Linked DNA regions of Homo sapiens: region 2 is linked to region 1. A link means that fine-mapping ties the variant in region 1 to the expression of a gene that starts in the linked region. Tissue or cell type: whole blood. Region 1 holds a variant in brackets; the other region holds the start of a gene. All regions are shown on one strand. Distances are between the middles of the regions.

Evidence for each region. PIP is the estimated chance that this variant, and not a neighbour inherited with it, causes the effect.
Region 2: it holds the start of HAAO, and the variant in region 1 is fine-mapped to the expression of HAAO in whole blood (GTEx, PIP above 0.99).

Annotation. Positions count from the first base shown.
Region 1 is chr2:42,836,945-42,839,698 of GRCh38, forward strand. No RefSeq gene overlaps it. Among named protein-coding and RNA genes, the nearest start is that of TRI-TAT2-1, 28 kb to the left of the region's middle. The variant A/G (reference allele first, on the strand shown) is at 1,160.
Region 2 is chr2:42,791,144-42,793,897 of GRCh38, forward strand. It overlaps HAAO (3-hydroxyanthranilate 3,4-dioxygenase), which reads right to left and starts at 1,440. Exons shown (of 10, transcript NM_012205.3): 1 at 1,314-1,440. The coding sequence starts at 1,393. RefSeq lists silencers at 1,287-1,726, 1,907-2,006, 2,087-2,176.

The DNA of each region.
Region 1 (2,754 bases):
ACAAGGAGCCCAGGACTGTTGTTCCAGCCAGTAAAAGGCTTTCAAAATAAGAAATGGTCTTAGAGCAAAGATAAAATTTAGGGCACTGCCCGTAAATTGTGGCCTTGGGTAAATGTGAAATCAAGAATGTGGCTGTAAAACCCTTTATTAAAACCTCAGAAAAATTTAAGGGCATTATTTTTGTAGACCTTTTGGATAGACAAAAGGGCTTCCGAGAATATTTTTTTCCCCCTTGAGACAGGGTCTTGCTATGTTGTCCAGGCTGGCCTCCAACTCTTAGGTACAAAGAGCCCTCTTGAGCAGCTGGGACCACAAGCACACACTGCCACGCCCAGTAAAGAATCTTCAGAGTATACATCTTAGATCCTCTCTGCTAGACAATAGGACTTCTAAGAATCCCACAGCAACCTCACAAGTGGCTTAAAGTAGAAGAAGGCCTACTAGGGGAGAAATGGGGGTATGGCTATTGTCTTAAGTAGTAAATTATCATTTGATATTTAAGAAACCCACAAGTTTTTGAAAGAATTGTATCAAGTTGGGTGGGAAGGGACGGAGACAGTTCAAAATGCAGCAGACCCTGGTCATTAGTTTCTTTCTTTCTTTTTTTTTTTGAGATGGAGTCTCACTCTGTTGCCCAGGCTGGAGTGCAGTGGCACAATTTTGGCTCACTGCAACCTCCATCCCCCGGATTCAAGTGATTCTCTTGCCTCAGCCTCCTGAGTAGCTGGGATTACATATGTATGCAACCACACCTGGCTAATTTTTGTATTTTTAGTAGAGATGGGGTTTCACCATGTTGGCCAGGCTGGTCTCGAACTCCCAACCTCATGTGATCCACCCACCTCGGCCTCCCAAAGTGCTGGGATTACAGGCGTGAGCCACTGTGCCCAGCTGCCCTGGTCATTTCTTATGGAGAAGGATGGATAATTGAGTGTGAAGCCAACAGCTAGGGACAGCCCCTCCCTGAGAGCAGGACCAGGTCTAATGAAGACACTGGTGACATGTGCCTGGCTTGCTTTCGGAATTGCACTGTGCTAGTTTCTTCTCCTTTTTGAATGAGAGTGTCTGTTGCCATTATCCTGTGTCCACTTTGTTGCTGTACGTTGGCCATGGGGGAAGACAACTTGTCTCTTTAGCTCACAGATCTTCAGGGCAAAAC[A/G]AACCCTCTCTAAAGAACCACACCTGAGGGGCCTTATTTGCACCTGGACCTGAGTTAGAGGTTGAGGTCCTGGATTTGGAGCCTGAACCTAAAGGCTTCATGGCTGATACCTTAATGGTCTTGGAAGGCGACTGTATTTTGCACGTGGGAGGTATGTGATTCATGGGAGGCAGAGGGCAGACATTGTGGCAGCTAGTCTTCCAAGATAGCACCCCCGTGTTCACACCCCTAGTATGCCCAACCTTGTGTATTCCCCTCTCTTAACTCTGGGTTGTCTCCGTGACTCGCTTTTGACCAACAGAAAGCAGTGATGGTGAGGCTGCATGACTTCTGAGGATAGGCCATGGGAAGCCTTTTGCCTTTCAGCTGGGTCTGTTAGAAAGCTTGCTCTGGGGTAAGTCAGCTATCATCTTAGAAATTTGATTCCTCTGAGGCCATCATACTATAAGGAAGCCAAGATAGCCACATGGAAAGGCCACATGGAGAAAGCAATAGATTCAGCCAGATTCCACTTGTTCCAGCCATCCCAGCTGAGGATGAAAGAAGATAGGTGAAAGAAGATGCTGCCATCTTGGATGTGCAGTCCAGTTGAGCCAACGTTTGACTCTAGACCAAGGGTGTCCAATCTTTTGGCTTCTGTGGCCACATTGGAAGAAGAAGGACTGTCTTGGGCCACACATAAAATACACTAACAATAGCTGATGAGCTAAAAACAAAAATCACGCACACAAAAAATACTCATAATTTTTTAGAAAGTTTATGGGCTGGGCATGGTGGCTCATGCCTGTAACTCCAGCACTGTGGGAGGCTGAGGCGGGTGGATCACCTGAGGTCAGGAGTTCAAGACCAACCTGGCCAACATGGTGAAACCCAGTCTCTACTACAAATACAAAAATTAGCTGGGCATGGTGGTGGGTGCCTGTAATCCCAGCTACTTGGGAGGCTTAGACAGGAGAATCACTTGAACCTGGGAGGCAGAGGTTGCAGCAAGCCGAGATCACGCCATTGCATTCCAGCCTGGGCAACAAGAGCGAAGCTCCATCTCAAAAAAAAAAAAAAAAAAAAAAAAAAGAAAGTTTACGAATTTGTGTTGGCCTGCATTCAAAGCCATCCAGGGTCTCATGCAGCCCATAGGCTGCAGGTTGGACAAGCTTGCTCTAGGTCCTGCTGCCATTTGACTGCGACTACATGAGAGACCTGTCCCCATAAGCGACCACTAAGTCCAGGTAACCCTGAGAGCTAAAAATATTTTGTTTTTATTAAAAATAATTGTTTTTAATTAAAAGCTTCTTTTGTGTGGAGATGGGGGTCTCTCTATGTTGCCCAGGCTGGTCTTGAACTCTTGGCCTCAAGTGATCCTCCTGCCTCGGCCTCCCAAAGTGCTGGGATTATAGGAGTGAGCCACCATGCCTGGCCAATTGATTTTAAAGCACTAAGTTTTGGGGTTTGTTATGCAGCAGAGATAACCAAAACAGCACAAAATTGCACCTATTTTAATAAAAATGTAAATTAAAGTAAATTGTAAAAGATCAAAGCTTAAAGTTACTTCTCTTGTAAGTTTTAAAAATTATTTTTTCTTAAAATCTTCAAAATTA
Region 2 (2,754 bases), 46 kb before region 1:
GTAGGGTGAGCCCCTGATCCAATATGTCTGGTGTTCTTTTAAAAGAGGGAAATTTGGACACAGACACACACACAAGGAGACTGCCTTGTGAAGACGAAGGTGGAGGTGGGCGTGGTACAGCAGAAGCAAGAATACCAATGATGCCAGCAAACCACCAAATGCTAGGGAGAGGCCCGGGCAGATGGACGCGAGACCTCAGGGGGAGCGAAGGGAGGACTGAGAAGGAGCGACTGCAGATGGGGATGAAGTGTTGGAAGGAGGCAAAGATGATGCTACATCTTTAATTGGGGGTGGGCAACAACAGTGATAGAAGAGATCTTTGGGGAGATATTGACTGTTGGCCATGTGGTATTGCATGGTAACCAAGAGTGTGCGTGGACTCTGGAGTCGAACTGCTCCGTGGGTTGAGTCTGGAGCCTATCGCACAGGCGCTCCGTGACACTAGAAAAGTTACTTATGAAAATCCCCCCTCACGGTGCTACTGTGAGAATGAGATGAGATGATGTAAAAACACTTGGCATAGTCCTGGGCCTGCTGTTTGCCTTGAGGTGCCACCCTACTGACCATGTCCTGTGGACACAGCAAAAATGGGGAATGTAAACCTTGATCTAGCTGGCATGTGGGGCCCCGCCATGGAACTGGGGGGATGAGGGAGGTGACCATACCACAGGGGAGGGCCTGAGAGGTCTGCCTGAGAAAGATGGCAGCTGGATGGCCAACCCTGTTGGGTGCTGCAGGCAGAGGCTACTGGCAGAGGTGGCCTAGGGAGGGTCTGGTGTGGTGTGTGTGTGTGTGTGTTCGTGCACACCTGCATAGAGGGGCCCTGAAAAAAGCAAGACATCAAGATCTTCCCAAAGGAGCGGATTCTCTGCCTCCCCCTTTGCCTGTGGCTTCTGGGACAGGGTTGGGGTGTATGATTTGGCTGCCCCCAGGCCTACATTCTAGTGCATTTCTGCCTTGAAAACCACCCTCCCCACACTTTTGAGTTTTCCCAAAATGCACAGTGTCACTTGGGGTTGGAGAATTGTTTCTCAGCCCTGGAAGGAGAGGTGCACCCTGTCATGTCATCTCCTACAGCCTGAGAACCAGCTCAGCCTTCTTCAGAAGTCAAGGCCACAGTCACAAGAAAGAGGAACAGACCGATGTGGTGGAACCGGAACAGCCTGTCTCCATCTTCCCCCAAGAACCAAGAGATTAAAGCGGTCCTTCTGCAAGCTTCTGGGTCCAGGAACTCGGAGCTGGAAGGTGAGGGCGCAGATGGAGGAGGGGGAGGAGGCGAGGGCAGGGGGCGGCCATGGGGGTGCTGGACTCACATGAGCTTGTTGCAGACCGGGGGCTGGAAGGAGCCCCGGTTCTCCTTCACCCAGGCCCTCACTCCCAGGCGGCGCTCCATGACTGTCCCGGGCGCCTCCTCGCAGCGCTGTCCTCCCGCCGTCGGAGGCCCGCAGCTCCGCCCAGCCGCCTTTTTAACCAGAATCCCAAGCTCACGAGGCGGAGCAAACCCCCGCGACCCCGTGGTGGGGGCTTGGGGCCCGCGGACTTTGCCCCCTGGTGGACTTTGGTCTGAGCCCGCCGCCCTCCGCGCCACTCCAGGCCCTGGCGAGCGCGGCGGCGGCAGCGCTGGGGAACGGCGTCCCGCGCCCTCTGCTTCTCCGCGGGGCAGGGGCTCGGTCCCCGCCACCGTCTCCGGGGCGCCCCACACACTGGCGCCTGCGGTGGGGCCTGCTCCCGGCGGAGGACAAAGAATCCAGACCCTTCCTGGACGCTTGTCCCCAGACGTTCCTTCCCTCTACGCCCCGAGGGGAATCCCAGGGAAGGTTCCCAGAAATACTACAGTGAGGAGATCGCGGGTTGGAAGTCCCAGCACCTGAGAACACGGTGCTGGCGCTGGGCTCAAGATTTGGCTTTCCCATCTGGAAAAGGGGAATGACTGCCCCGCCACTCAGGGCTGCGGCGCTCACCCAGCGGGAAGCCGCACGGCGGTCCCCGCAGGTCCCGATTCAAGGTGAGCCCCAGACCTGCTGCGTGCGGCCGGCAGACTCCGCCGCGGGCTCGGCGAGGGGAGCGGTGCAGGCGCCGAGCTGCGGAGCCCGGGCTCAGGGCAGGACCGCGAGCCCTCCCCACCTGAGGCCCAGCCGAGCGGCCGCTGTCCGCGCAGTGTCGCAGTGGACCCCGAGCCCCGTGCTGAACTCCTTAGGCGTCTTAGGAACATACTCAGTTCGCACGCAGCTATGGGAGGAATTTGGCAGATGTGGACACCGGCCTCAGTGTCCTAGCCCTCGGGAATCTCGGGGTGTTAATGATGACAGCCCCGTGTGAGAGACTCTAACAGTTATCCTGGGGGTGAGGGGCTGGGGCGCTGGGCCTGGGCGTGCATGTGTGAGGAAAGAGAAATCTGCGCGGGTGTGGAAGATGGAGAAGCCTGTCTTTCTGCAGGACTCAGAACTTTCTTAGGAAGTTTGGAGGGAGTGGGAGCTGACGGGTAGGGGAGGAGGAAAATGGCTCAGGCCCCTGACACCGGAATCCAGACTATAGAGTTTAAGAAACTAAACGCCTCTAAATCCTGCCCTCACAGCCCGCCTGGCCTGGGCTGGTTTTCTCAGCATTCCAGACATAAAGACTCCTCTAGTACAACTCAAAATCAAAACCCAGACGACAGGAAGCCGAATTCCCCACTGAGACCCTCCCGTTTCCTCTCTGACGCTCTTTTTTTTTTTTTCATTTTTCTCTCTCCTTTTTTTTAGTTATTTATCT